Regions from separate parts of the Homo sapiens genome. Here regions 2 and 3 are each reported to be linked to region 1. Evidence: microRNA targets listed by miRTarBase, many of them from high-throughput screens and not tested one by one. Region 1 holds a microRNA gene; each other region holds the end of a gene's coding sequence.
The links. Region 1 holds the annotated microRNA hsa-miR-3190-3p (UGUGGAAGGUAGACGGCCAGAGA, at 3,693-3,715, shown strand). A microRNA usually pairs through its seed, bases 2 to 8, with sites in the 3' UTR of a target mRNA and lowers its output. Matches are read on the target gene's strand: a 7mer-m8 pairs with bases 2 to 8, a 7mer-A1 pairs with bases 2 to 7 and ends in A, and an 8mer does both.

Region 2: the mRNA of INTU is a reported target of hsa-miR-3190-3p. Seed matches in the 3' UTR shown: 8mer at 3,079-3,086.
Region 3: miRTarBase lists GOLPH3L as a target of hsa-miR-3190-3p. Seed matches in the 3' UTR shown: 7mer-m8 at 1,034-1,040 and 7mer-m8 at 1,887-1,893.

Annotation. Positions count from the first base shown.
Region 1 is chr19:47,223,296-47,228,295 of GRCh38, forward strand. MIR3190 (microRNA 3190) reads left to right here and starts at 3,647; the gene lies at 3,647-3,726. It overlaps BBC3 (BCL2 binding component 3), which reads right to left. Exons shown (of 4, transcript NM_014417.5): 2 at 4,863-5,000; 3 at 3,269-3,459. MIR3191 (microRNA 3191) reads right to left here and starts at 3,724; the gene lies at 3,649-3,724. RefSeq lists enhancers at 2,079-2,578, 3,787-4,729 and silencers at 2,652-3,211, 2,706-2,872, 3,242-3,541, 4,762-5,000.
Region 2 is chr4:127,715,655-127,720,654 of GRCh38, reverse strand. INTU (inturned planar cell polarity protein) reads right to left here. Exons shown (of 16, transcript NM_015693.4): 16 at 1-4,330. The coding sequence ends at 4,219. Among named protein-coding and RNA genes, the nearest start is that of SLC25A31, 12 kb to the left of the region's middle.
Region 3 is chr1:150,644,159-150,649,158 of GRCh38, reverse strand. GOLPH3L (golgi phosphoprotein 3 like) reads left to right here. Exons shown (of 5, transcript NM_018178.6): 5 at 411-2,929. The coding sequence ends at 838. Among named protein-coding and RNA genes, the nearest start is that of ENSA, 17 kb to the right of the region's middle. RefSeq lists an enhancer at 1,793-2,294.

The DNA.
Region 1 (5,000 bases):
GTGGCTCACGCCTGTAATCCCAGCACTTTGGGAGGCCAAGGCAGGTGGATCACCTGAGGTCAGGAGTTCAAGACCAGCCTGGCCACCATGGGGAAACCCCGTCTCTACTAAAACAACAAAAATTAGCTGGGCCTGGTGGCACACACCTGTATTCCCAGCTACTAGGGAGGCCAAGGCAGGAGAATCGCTTGAACCCGGGAGGCGGAGGTTGCAGTGAGCCGAGATTGCACCACTGCACTCCAGCCTGGGCAACAGAGCAAGACTCCGTGTCAAAAAAAAAATTTTTTTTAAGTGTACAGAGAGCTGCAATCCTCTGCCACTCCCTGTAGCTCCACAGGCAGGCTCTGTGCTAAGTGGGGACCACCTAACCTCCTTCCCTTCAGGTGCAGGGGAAGGAGAAACTCACTTTACAGAAGGTTAAATGATCCTCATCGTCCTCATGCTACCTGGTAGTGAGTCGCCTGGTACCAGCCCAGCCTCCTCAACACTCCCTAGCAACTCTTGGGGCCAGGAGATGGTGGCAAAGGGGGCACATCGGATTGGTGTAAGTTACAAAACCCACCACTGTCACACTGCTGTGGGTGCCACCTGGTGAGAAAGCTAGCAATCACCTAGTAAGGTGGATGGTGGGCAGACCACCCAGGTACCTACTCTAGAAACACAAGAGCGCACCCGGAAATATGCATGATTGGGAGAGGAAAAAAGGCAATAAATAATGGCCGGGCGCAGTGGCTTACACCTGTAATCCCAGCACTTTGGGAGGCCGAGGTGGGTGGATCACCTGAGGTCGGGAATTCAAGATCAGCCTGGTCAACATAGTGAAACCCCGTCTCTACTAAAAATACAAAAATTAGCTGGGCATGGTGGCAGGCATCTGTAATCTCAGCTACTTGGGAGGCTGAGGCAGGAGAATCACTTGAACCCGGGAGGTGAAGGTTGCAATGGGCCGAGATTGCACCATTGCACTCCAACCTGGGCAACAAGAGCGAAACTCTGTCTCAAAAAATAAATAAATAAAATAAAATCTGAAATACATTTAAAAATAGTCTGGGTGAGGTAGCTCAGACCCATAATTCCAGCAATTTGGGAGGCCAAGGCAGGAGGATCACTTGAGGCCAGGAGTTTGAGACCAGCCTGGGTAACACAGAAAGACCTGATCTCTACAAAAAAATAAAATAAAAATTAGCCAGGCATGGTGGATCTGCCTGTGGTCCCAGCTACTTGGGAGGCTGAGGCGGGAGGATCCCTTAAACCCAGGAGTTGGAGGCTGCAGGGAGCTGTGATTGAACCACGGCACTCCAGCCTGGGAGACAGTGAGACCCTGTCTCTAAACATAAAATAAAAATACATATCTATCCTAAATATCCATCAATGAGAAAATGAATAAGGATACTATGTTTATCCAACAGAATACTATGTAGCAGTGAAAATGACTTTTTTTTTTTTTTTTTTTGAGACAGAGTTTCATTCTGTCCTCCAGGCTGGAGTGCAGTGGCATGATCTCCTGATCTCGGCTCACTGCAACCTCCACCTCCTGGGTTCAAGAGATTCTCCTGCCTCAGTCTCCCAAGTAGCTGGGATTACTGGCGTGTGCCACCATGCTCAGCTACTTTTTGTTTCTTTTTTTTTTTTTGAGACAGATTTTCGCTGTTGTTGCCCAGGCTGGAGTGCAATGGCACGATCTCGGCTCACCGCAACCTCTGCCTCCCGGTTTCAAGCAATTATCCTGCCTCAGCCTCCCGAGTAGCTGAGATTACAGGCATGTGCCACCACGCCTGGCTAATTTTGTATTTTTAGTAGAGACGGGGTTTGTTCATGTTGGTCAGGCTTGTCTCGAACTCCCGACCTCAGGTGATCCGCCCTCCTCAGCCTCCCAAAGTGCTGGGATTACAGGCATGAGCCACCACGCCCGGCCTTAATTTTTGTATTTTTAGTAGAGACGAGGTTTCACCATGTTGGCCAGACTGGTCTCAAACTCCCAACCTCAAGTGAGCCACTTGCCTCCGCCTCCCAAAGGGCTGGGATTACAGGCGTGGGCCACTGCACCAGGCCGAAAATGGCTGTATTTGTTGTTTCTTTTTTGAGATGGTCTTGCTCTGTCCCCCAGGCTGGAGTTCAGTGACCCTTCATGGCTCAGTGCAGCCTCGACTTCCTTGGCTCAAGGGACCCTTTCACCTCAGCCTCCCAAGTAGCTGAGACTACAGGCCCGCGCCACCACACCCGGCTAATTTTTGTATTTTTTGTAGCAACGGGGATCTCATTATGTGGCCCAGGCTGGTCTGGAACTCCTGGGCTCAAGCGTCCTTCTATCTCCGCCTCCCAAAGTGCTGGGATTACAGGAGTGAGCCACCGTGCCTGGCTGAACATAGATGAATGGAAGCTCTTTTGCCCATATGGTGAATCTGAAGCCTAATATTGAGGGAAAAAGGAATTCTGGGGAGAAACAAAAACTATGTCATATACGCTAAGCTAAGAATGCTCCATGATTCTAAGCCCTGGTTCTGGCCTGGTAAATACGGAGTAAAAGCAACACCTGCAGGGGTTGAGAGAGGCCAACTCGAGAGATTTCCTTTGGATGCAAGGAGGGGGAAGGGATGGGGAGAGTAAGGAGCTTCACCACATGCGTTTCTGCGGTTTTGTTTGGTTTCTTAATAAGCAAGCAATGCGGGTGTAATGTTCAAACTGAACAGAGCTGCCTGGTGGGCGCATGATGTTTGTGATTTCCCATTCTCTGCTGTGGGCTTCGAATATTTGTTTTAAAAAATCGAGGCCGTGCCAGGGGCTGGGGGGCGGGGCCTCCCGCGGGGCGGGGCTGCGAGCCCACCCCTGCGGTCCCCGGCCCGCCCCGGCGCCCGGGAAACTGTGTGGCGCTGCGGGCCGCGCGAGAGGGACGGCAGGGGGCGGGCGCGGCGCGGCTGCTGACTCACCGGCTATAAATAGCCCGGGATATATGAGCCGCGCCGCCCAGCGCCGCCCTCAGTCCCCGCGGCCGCGGGCCACGGGCGCGCAGCTCCACTCCTCGGCGGCCTAGTCCCTGGCCCTGGCCCTGGCCCTGGCTCGGGCTCCGGCTATGCCAGCCGCGGCGCGGAGTCCTTGGGCGGCTCTGCGGGCGCGCGATTCCCCCCCACCCACTTACCCCCCACCTGCCTGTCCGCGGAGCGACCCAGCCGCGCAGGGCAGCAGCTGCCGCACATCTGGCGGGGGCCGCCTGCCGCCCCCTCCTCCGGCGGAAGTCCCACCTGCCGTCTACCCCACCCCCAGCACTCACCCGCCGCTCGTACTGTGCGTTGAGGTCGTCCGCCATCCGCCGCAGCTGGGCCCCGATCTCCCGGGCCCACTGTTCCTCCTCCCCGCGGACTCCCGGGGCCGCCTGGGTGGGACCGCCCGCCAGAGCCCCCGGGGCGCTGGGCACGGGCGACTCCAGGTGCTGCTCCGCCAGCGAGAGCGAGGGCTGAGGACCTTGGAGAGGCAGAGGGGCGCGGTCAGCACCCACCACCCCTCCAGGCCTCGAGGTGTCTCGGCCTGCTCCCCTCTTTCCCAGCCACTGCTCCCCGCCTCATTTCTAGTGATCCCATCGCTAGTGAGTCAATTTCTCAGCTTCTCCTCCACAGGCACCAGAAAGCAAGAAGTACCTGGGGACGCCGCTCTGGGGTCACCTGTCTGGCCAGCTACGTCCCCACGGCCCTTGTCAGTGTGGAAGGTAGACGGCCAGAGAGGTGACCCCGGGGGTGGTCAGGCTTAACGACCTCTATTTTCCAAAGGGGCCACATTTTGCCTTTTCCATGTGACAGGCAGGGAAACTGAGGCCCGCCCTTAGGGAGTATCCCAAGGTCACACAGGGATACAGTGACTGACCCCACCCAGATCACAAGCCTCAGGTCTCCTGCCCTCTCGTGTCCAACCACAGGGAAGCCACACCTCCGGATGTGGCAGAGGCCTAGAGACCAGAAGGCCAGAGACTGTGGCAGCTTCAGAGCGCGGGCCTGGGGGGCTGGGACGCGGGAGATGCCTTCCTGCCCCCCCCCCCCCCCCACTTCTGAGCGCCCTAGGAGGCTCCTGCCCTCCCGTCCCACCAGGTCCTGGCCTGAGGGTTCCCTAAGGCCTACAGCCAGGGCCTCAGTTTCCACATCTGTGACCTTGGCCTTGAAATCGGTGTCCCCTTCCAGGGCTTCCAGGAACTGAGTTAGGGAAGTTTTCTCTTTCCTCGCTCCCCTTGGGCTGCCGGGACAAGATGGGGGATGGGAAACCAGGACACACTTTCCCTAGAGCGCCTGCCGGCAGGGATGGGGCTCCACGGGCACCACAGGGTTAACAGCCCATCAGGCAGGGGACCTTTAACCCTTCCCTCCCCAAGACTCCCCCACCTCCCCGAGGGGACTTCCCAACACAATGGCCCCTCCCCCTCTCCTTCCTCCGCCGGGACTGCTGAGGACAGCCCCTGGCCAAAGAGATGCAAATAAAAGCAAAAGGCCTCTCGACCCCTCCCCAGAGGCCAGAGTTGACAGTCCTCCCGCTCGGCCCACTCTCCCTGCAACAGGAATCCTCCAGGGGGTCTAGAGGACCCAGACTGGGGGAGGGGAGCTGGGATGCAGCTGTTGCCCCAGGCCCGGAAGAGACAGTGGGCTGCAATTCGGGGACTGCAGTCAGATTCCAGGAGGGACTTCCCACTTGACCTCCCCCTCCACCCCCAGCCTCCGTCTTCCTGCTTCTTGCAACACAAAGACCACATTGGCCACACCCTCCCAGTGGCCCGGCTGGGCCCGCCACCTCCCCCCGTCCTCTCCCACTTCTCCAGTTCCTCCGAGTCTCCAGCCCTCTCTCTTCCCGGCTCCTATCACCCCGGGGGCGGGGCGGGCACTCACCGTCCGGGCGCGGGCCTCGGGGCCGGCTGCGGGGACCCCCAGGCCAGCGGGAACCCCCCAGGGCGGCGGTGACGGCGGGTGGGGCGGTGGGGGCGCAGAGGTAGGCAGCGGGCAGCAGGGTGGGGGCGGCGGGGGCGG
Region 2 (5,000 bases), not on the chromosome of region 1:
TCAGATTCATAAAACAAGTTCTTAGAGACCCAAAAAGAGACTTAGATTTCCACACAATAATAGTGGGAGACTTTAACACCCCACTGTCAATATTAGATCATCGAGACAGAAAATTAACAAAGTTATTCAGGACTTGACCTCAGCTCTGGATCAAGTGGGACCTGATAAATATCTAGACATCTTTCCACCCCCAAACAACAGAATATATATTCTTCTCAGTGCCACATGGTACTTACTCTAAAATTGATCACACAATTAGAAGTAAAGCACTCCTCAGCAAATGCTAAAGAACTGAAGTAATAACAAACAGTCTCTCAGATCACAGCGCAATCAAATTGGAACTCAAGAGTAAGAAAGTCACTCAAAACCACAAAACTACGTGGAAATTGAACAACCTGCTCCTGAATGACTCCTGGGTAAATAATGAAATTAAGAGAGAAATCAAGAAGTTCTTTGAAACCAATGAAAACAAAGAGACAATGTACCAGAATCTCTGGGGCATAGCTAAAGCAGTGTTAAGAGGGAAATTTATAGCACTAAATGCCCACATCAAAAAGCTAGAAAGATCTCAAATCGACACCCTAGTATCACAACTAAAAGAACTAGTGAACCAAGAGCAAACAAACCCAAAAGCCAGCAGAAGACAAAAAGTAACCAAAATCAGAGTGGAAATGAAGGAGCTAGAGACATGAAAAACCCTTCAAAAAATAAATGAATCCAGGGGCTGCTTTTTTTTGAAAATATTAACAAAATAGACTATTAGCTAGACTAATAAAGAAGAAAAGAGAGAAGAACCAAATAGACACAATAAAAAATGATAAAGGGGATATTACCACTGATCCCATGGAAATATAAACAACCATCAGACAATACTATAACAGCTCGGTGCAAATAAACTCGAAAATCTAGAAGAAATGGATAAATTCCTGGACACATACACCCTCCCAAGACTGAACCAGGAAGAAGTTGAATCACTGAATAGACCAATAACAAGTTCTGAAATTGAGGCAGTAATTAATAGGCTACCAACCAAAAAAAGCCCAGGACCAGATGGATCTACAGCTGAATTCTGCCAGAAATACAAAAAGAAGCTGATACCACTTCTTCTGAAACTATTCCAAACAAATGAAAAGGAGAGACTCCTCCCTAACTCATTCTATAAGGCCAGCATCATCCTGATATCAAAACCTGGCAGAGATACAACAAAAAAAGAAAACTTCAGACCAATATCCCTGATGAACATCAATGTAAAAATTCTCAATAAAACACTGGCAAACTGAATCCAGCAGCACATCAAAAAGCTTATCCACCACGATCAAGTTGGCTTCATTCCCGGGATGTGAGGCTGGTTCAACATATGCAAATCAATAAACTTAATTCATCACACAAACAGAACTAAAGACAAAGACCACATGATTAACTCAATAGATGCAGAAAACACCTTCAATAAAATTCAACATCCTTTCATGTTAAAAACTCTCAATAAACTAGGTATTGAAGGAACATACTTCAAAATAATAAGAGCCATTTATGACAGACTCACAGCCAATATCATACCGAATGGGCAAAAGCTGGAAGCACTCCCCTTGAAAACCAGCACAAGACAAGGATGACCTCTCTCACCACTATTCAACATAGTATTGGAAGTCCTGGCCAGGGCAATCAGGCAAGAGAAAGAAATAAAGGGTATTCAAAGAAGAAGAGAGGAAGTCAAAATGTCTTTGTTTGCAGAGGACATTATCCTATATCTAGAAAACCCCATTGTCTCAGCCCAAAAGCTTCTTAAGCTGATAAGCAACTTCAGCAAAGTCTCAAGATACAAAATCATTGTGCAGAAGTCACCAGCATTCCTATACACCAACAACAGGCAAGCAGAGATCCAAATCATGAATGAACTCCTACTCACAATTGCTTCAAAGAGAATAAAATACCTAGGAATACAGCTAACAAGGGAAGTGAAGGACCTCTTCAAGGAGAACTACAAACCACGGCTCAAGGAAACCAGAGAGGACACAAACAAATGGAAAAATATTCCATGCTCACAGACAGTAAGAATCAATATCATGAAAATAGCCATACTGCCCAAAGTAATTTATAGAGTCAATGTTATTCCCATTAAACTACCATTGATATTCTTCATAGAATTAGAAAAAACTATTTTAAAATTTATATGGAACCAAAAAAAGAGCCTGTATAGCCAAGGCAATCCTAAGCCAAAAGATCAAAGCTGGAGGCATCACACTACCAAACTTCAAACTGTACTGTAAGGGTACAATAACCAAAACATCATGGTACTGGTACAAAAACTGACACATAGACCAATGGAATAGAATAGAGAACTCAGAAATAAGATTGCACATCTACAACCATCTGATCTTCAACAAACCTGAGAAAAACAAGCAATGGGGAAAGGATTCCTTATTTAATAAATGGTGCTGGGAGAACTAGCTATCCATATGCAGAAAATAGAAACTGGACCCATTCCTCATACCTTATACAAAAAATTAAGATAGAATAAAGGCTTAAATGTAAAGCCCAAAACTATAAAATCCCTAGAAGAAAATCTAGGCAATACCATTTAAGACATGAGCATGGGCAAAGATTTCATGATGAAATCACAAAAGCAACTGCAACAAAAGCAAAACTTGACAAATGGGATCTAGTTAAATTAAAGACCTTCTGCACAGCAAAAGAAACTATCATCAGAGTGAACAGGCAACCTACAGAGTGGGAGAAAATTTTGGCAATCTATTCATCCAACAATGATCTGATATCCAGGATCTACAAGGAACTCAAACCAAGTTACAAGAAAAAATAGAACCGCATTAAAAACTGGGCAAAGGACATGAACAGACACTTCTCAAAAGAAGACATTCATGCAGCCAACAAACATATGAAAAAAAAGCTCAATATCACTGATTGTTAGAGAAATGCAAATCAAAACCACAATGAGATATCATCTCACACCAGTCAGAGTGGCTATTATTAAAAAGTCAAGAAATAACAGATGCTGGCGAGGCTGTGAGGAAATAGGAACGCTTTTACACTGTTGGTGGGAATGTGAATTAGTTCAACCATTGTGGAAGACAGTGTGGTGATTCTTCAAAGATCTAGAACCAGAAATGCCATTTGACCCAGCAATCCCATTACTGGGTTTATACTCAAAGTAATATAAATCATTCAATTACAAATATATATGCACACATATGTTCATTGAAGCACTATTTACAATAGCAAAGACATGGAATCAACCCAAATGCCCATCAGCAATAGACTGGATAAAGAAAATGTGGTACACATACACCATGGAATACTATGCAGCCACAAAAAGGTATGAGATCATGTCCTCTGCAGGGACATGGATGAAGCTGGAAGCCATTATCCTCAGCAAACTAATGCAGGAACAGAAAACCAAACACTGTAGGTTCTCACTTATAAGTGGGAGCTGACCATGAGAACACATGGACAAAGGGAGGGGAACAATGCACACCAGGGCCTGTTGTGGGGGTAGGGAGAGTATTAGGAAAAATAGCTAATGCATGCTAGGCTTAATACCTAGGTGATGGGTTGATAGGTGGAGCAAACCGCCATGGCACATGTTTACCTATGTAACGAACCTGCACATCCTGCACATGTACCCCAGAACTAAAACTAAAACTAAAATAAAATAAAAGCACATTTTACTTAAGAGGTATTTTTGAAACCTCAATGCAATCATCTCATTTTACATGAAAACTCTGAGCTTAGAGAGGTACAAAAACTTGCTCATGGTCATAGCACTACTTAGTTACAGCACCTGGTCACCTGCTCCCAATTTCATAATCATTTCATCAGATATCAGTATGAATTTTGAGAAAAATAAACAACAACAAATTGAGTATTTTTCAAGAATAAACATTTCCTATATTAATCTGATATAAAAAACACTTCACATTATTTCAAACTAGTCAATAAATTAACATTATATACCAAAATAGCAATAAGTTAACAATCCCTTCTTTCACATTTTAATCAAGTATATTCTCAAAAGTCTTACAATATTACATTAAGATTTAATGTATCAAATCCAACAGCATTTCATCTCAATATTTAACAATATTATGTTCAATATTGAATAGTAAAAAGAAGCTAAACTTTATCTCTTTGTGTATTGATTTCAGCAATTCTGACAGTGTTTGATCCTCCATGCACGTGTTTCTACGCATCAAGAAAGCACAGCTACAAGGTTAACCCAAAGAACAATTTAAAAGCTATTTCAATGGCAATTTCTGTGACTGAGTCATGAAAACAGACATAAAGTTCTTGAGGTTTTGGATGAAGAAAAAGTCTCCTGCAGAAGAAAAGAACACACTCATTTCAGAAATTAAAACAACAAACAACAAAAACTCTAACCATCCAATTAATTTAATTTTTGTTTCTGAAAGCATCAGTAGTAAATTTAAAATCCATGAATCTAAATCTATACTAGGGAGAAAGCAGCTAGATTTATTTCTAAATAAATAATATATGCCTTAGGTCAATTAGTTTTTATTGCTCTAGAGTGTAATAATCCTATTTTATCAATATGTATTATGATACCACTCAGTTTTTAAATAGCAAATCTAGTTATTATAATAAAGGCAATAGCACTAGCATTATAGGCACAATAGTTATTAAGTATTTTATTGCTCTTTACTTTCTAATGTTTAATTTTTATTAAAACATTAAATATATGGTAGCTTTTTTTGGCAAATAGAACTGAATTGGAATTAACATTGAAATTTTGTTTGGTTTTCTTAAAGAGTTAAAATTGAAATCCATTTAATCAATACTAATGTATACAAATTGATCTATTTAAACTGGAGATAGTTCTGCCTGATTTTCTTAAATTTCTCTTCTGCATAAATCTGCATTATCAAAATTCAACATCTTTTGATTCTTTCTATTCCAATTGTCATGAACGTAGTTAACACTCGACTGAACAGCTACATGTGTGCCTAACTGGTCTTCTCATTTCTAGT
Region 3 (5,000 bases), not on the chromosome of region 1:
GGGATAGAGCTTCTGCTCTACAAATAGGGTAGGGAACCTCAGTCCTCTTAGCTTCACCAGCAAATAGAACTTCCACAATATAGAGTAGAAATCATCTGGGAGAGACTGGTGTCCTAAATAGAATTTGAAAAATACATAAATAATTACAGTGTCACAGAGGTCACATAAGAACAGAAATAAAGTCTATAAGCTCTAGCAATATGGAAGTCCTTGGTGACATTTTTTGAAGCTGGTTTAATGTGAAATGTGGTTGGAGTCAAAGCCAGATTATAAAGGACTAAGGATTAAATGAATTGAGGAATGAAGATTATGCTTTTAAACATTTTAGCCATTCAAGTTTCCAAACAACTACATGTTTCATTTTGCTTTTCTCTTTCAGTTCATTATGTCCTATTTCTTTTTTCTCATAGGTGAGACCTGGAACCCCTTCAAATTACAGTACCAGCTGAGAAATGTACGAGAGCGCATCGCAAAGAACCTAGTAGAGAAAGGTATTCTAACCACTGAGAAGCAGAATTTCCTGCTATTTGACATGACTACTCATCCAGTGACCAATACAACAGAGAAACAGCGACTAGTGAAAAAACTTCAAGATAGTGTACTAGAGCGGTGGGTAAATGACCCTCAGCGTATGGACAAGCGAACACTAGCACTCCTGGTGCTAGCCCACTCCTCTGATGTGCTAGAGAATGTCTTCTCCTCTCTGACAGATGACAAGTATGATGTGGCAATGAATCGAGCCAAGGACTTAGTAGAACTGGACCCTGAAGTGGAAGGGACAAAGCCTAGTGCCACAGAAATGATCTGGGCTGTGCTGGCAGCCTTCAATAAATCTTAAAGCCGGCAGGTGGATTTCTCCTTTTCCCCTGCTGGCTGGTGACTGTCAGAGACCCCATCACTGAGTTTTGTGTGATGAGATGTTTTCATCATTTTTGTTTCCTTTTCTTGAATCAGACTTGTGATTTGGGGAGAGCAACTTCAGGGCTTCTCCATAGACCTTGACCATTATAAGCAGACCTTATTTCTCCCTACACTTCCACTCCATAGGTAAATAAACTGGGTGAAGCCACACACACCCAATGAACATTTTCTCCCATTTGGTGGTTTAGTTTCACCCAGTGTGCTTTTGGATAAGCAGAAATATCTAAATGGGATTTTGAGTTCTCCAGCTATAGAATGTGAATGAGATAAAAAGTGAACTATCTATTATATTTTTCTGAGTTTGTTTTCTATCATAAATACATGTTTTCACAGCCTTTGTCTCTCAGACTCTGCTAAATAATGTAGCTTATTGAAATAACTGTCGCTGAATAAGGAGCAATGAGAAACAAAACTAATTTTTGGAGCAGATGGTCTCTGGAATTGCATATCCTGCTAGTGATTTTCTCATCTTTCCTTTTCTAACCTAATGAGAATGTCCCAGATTCAATTACCTGGATGTCAAAGTCCTAGAGCCAGAAATATATTCTCTCATCCCTCTTAGCATTCTCTTGCTCCCTCATTCACTAGGGCAAATGTCTAAATGAAGAAAAGTCTCTCTCAACACCTCGTTCATGCAATCAGCATTAGAATTTGTAAGGAAGGAAGGGGGGTGGCATGAAAATTTCCATTCTTGGGGTATATGACTGTCCTGTTTCCCCCAGGCCACTTTTTTTTTTTTTTTCTTTTGAGACAGGGTCTTGCTCTTGCCCAGGCAGGAGTACAGTAGTGCAATCACAGCTGACTGCAGCCTTGACCTCCAGGGCTCAAGGATCCTCCTGCCTCAGTCTCCCAACTAAGTGGGACTACAGGCACGTGCCACCATACTCAGCTTTTTTTTGTTTGTTTTAGACAAGAGTCTCGCTTTGTTGCCCAGGCTGGTCTTGAATTCCTGGGCTCAAGCAATTCTTCCACCTCAGCCTCCCAAAGTGCTGAGATTACTGGCTTGAGCCACTGCACCCACCCCTCCAGACTACTTTAAATGTCTCTGCTCTGACTGAATTGAAGGAATTGTAAGTTTCAGTTGCTGAATATATCAGTATATCTGAACTCCAGATCTTTTTATTTCCTATTTTTGGCTTCCTACATAAATTAATAAAGTCTGTCTATATTTAAGGTTTCTGGGAGTAGTTTTGTCTATATTTAATCCATAGATGTGCTCCTAGTCATCAGTCTTATTTCAGTAAAACCATCTTTCTGGCCAAATCTCTAACACGTTTTTTACTTCAGTAGTGAGGGCAATGAGAAGCTTTATTAAGAAAGATCCTATTTAAAGGGCTAATTTGGTATTGAAAGCATGCTGATATAAAGTCCAGTATTTGAGGATATAAAGAGGATGTGCACTGAGCTGTGCTGATGTTCAGCATTTATTATACTTTAATGGGATAGTGCTTCTTGACCATTATAGAACAACAAACTGTCAAAGGGTTAATACAGATGACCCAGACCTGACATTAAATCCTCTTGATTAGAAATAATTAAATGAATTATTTATTCATTTCTCTCCTCTGCCAAATCTACTTAGCCCCACAAAAATGCCCCAGCTCAGTTAACATTTTTTTGTTTTTCACTTTAGGTATCTCTTAGGCAAATAGAGATATAAATTGTAATAGGAAACAGTCTCTAAATGTGAGGCTGAATACAGCTTCAGTCTGGCTCTCTAATAGGACAAAAGCCAGTCCATGTGTTGTCTCTAACTGATTTAGCTTTTTCTTTTCTTTGAACAATTCGGCATGAATTGAAACCAGGTTTTCCTGTGGAAAGTTATAGCTTGATTGGGAGATAGAAGTTGAATTGAGTTCTTTCTTGCAACTCTTAGTGTTTATTTTTATATCTCAGTAAGACGAGGATACCTTCAGTTTGAATCTGCATAATGTTCACTGCCAAACTCCTTCTCATTTAATGCTTATGGCCTTCACATTTCTGTATAATAAAGATCAATTATCAGCTCTCTGGTCTCTCTGTGCACAATTTTATAATTTAAATTGTTTTAATTGGAACTAAGGACTTTCTACACAAGGCTATTAATGCCTCCCCCTTTACACTAGCATACCAGCTTGTTTTATCCTATGTAGAAAATGAGGGATACAAAAACAATTGTAACATACATAGGCTGAGGGGCAGGACATGTCAAAAGCTGACCACATGAACACCAGCTAATACTATAAAGCCTAAATAGTGTCTCCATCTCAATCAAAATAAATTAGCCAATTATACCATTATTACCATGAAGAGAATGAATATGATCTGTTCTACTAATATCTACTTGCAAATGACACCTGAATTTAGGAGTTGAAAATCTTAAGTTCCAAATGTAGGTGACATGCCTGACTATAACAGAGTTAACATGTAAAAATGTAAGTGTGCTTATAATTGGCTTATTGTTCTCCCTTTCTTTATCTATAGCACAAGGGACAATAATACATTTGTTTATTAGGATTGTTTATACTTTTCTAATATTTTTATTTAAGACAAAGTACTATTTCCATAAGTCATGCTTTATACAATGTTTCTCAAAGTATATTGCAAAGACCATTGCACCAAAATGTGTGTGTGAGATAGGAGGGTAGCTTGCTAAAATGCAGATCCTAGTAAATCAGTCTCTGGAGTTAGGAGGAAGCTGCATTTTAAAGAAATTCTCAGCCAGGCGCGATGGCTCATGCCTGTAATCCCAGCACTTTGGGAGGCCGAGGCGGGCGGATCATCTGAGGTCAGGAGTTCAAGACCAGCCTGGCCAACATGGTGAAACCCCATCTCTACTAAAAATACAAAATTAGCTGGCCATAGTGGCGCACTCCTGTAATCCCAGCTACTCAGGAGGCTGAGGCAGGAGAATTGCTTGAATCTGGGAGGCGGAGGTTGCAGTGAGCCAAGATTGCGCCTCTACACTCCAGCCTGGGCGATAGAGCGAGACTCCGTCTCAAAAAAAAAGAAACTCTAAAAGCTTGCATGTTAAAATTGGAGAACGCCACCCTATATCTTATTGTCTATAATTCATTCATCAAAAAAATATTGAGTACTTACAAATTGATGGGCACTTGCTAGGCACTGACAATAAAACATTGCATAGGGCACCATTCTAGCTCCCAAGAATGCACATTTATGTGGGCAAATAATATAATTTGTGACAAATGCTCAAATAGAAGTATAAACATAATATTTGGAAGCACAAATAAATAGTATTCTCCCTGGGAATGTTAGGGAAGACTTTGAGGTGTTGTATTTATTATGGTTATCATATATTGAGCACTTTTGTTGTGAGGTAGGTACTATGCTAACTGCTTTGTATCTTGTCTCATTTATTACAACACTAAAAAAAAAAAAAAACTCTACAGTGTTCTTTTAAAGAAAACTCCGGTGGCTGGGTGTGGTGGCTCATGCCTGTATTCCCAGCACTTTGGGAGGCCAAGGCGGCTGGATCACCTGAGGTCAAGAGTTCGAGACCAGCCTGGCCAACATGGTGAAATCCCATCTCTATTAAAAATACAAAAATTAGCCCGGCATGGTGGCACATGCCTGTAGTCCCAGCTACTCGGGAGGCTGAAGCAGGAGAATCGCTGGAACCCGGGAGGTGGAGGCTGTAGTGAGTCAAGATCGTGTCACTGTACTCCAGCCTGGGTGACAGAGCAAGACTGTGTCTCAAAAAAAAAAAAAAGAAAACTCAGGTAATGAGGCTTGCCTGAGGACCTAGTGCAGAGCTTCAGTTCAAACACCTACTTTTTAATCACTACCCTTTCTTGCCTTCATTTGAACTAAATCTCAAAGGATCGGCTGGGCCACGGTGGCTTATGCCTGTAGTCCCAGCACTTTAGGAGGCCAAGGTGGGAGGATCACTGGAGTCCAGGAATTCAAGACCAGCCTGGGCCATAGCAAGACCTTGTCTCTATTTTTAAAAAAATGTTTAAAAAGTCTCAAAGGATCTTTTCAGGCTAAGAGGGAAGAGCCAAGGCTACCCTATGCAGAGGAAATAATATGTACAAGATAATTGGTGATGTGCTAGAATTTCATGAATGCATGTCGTT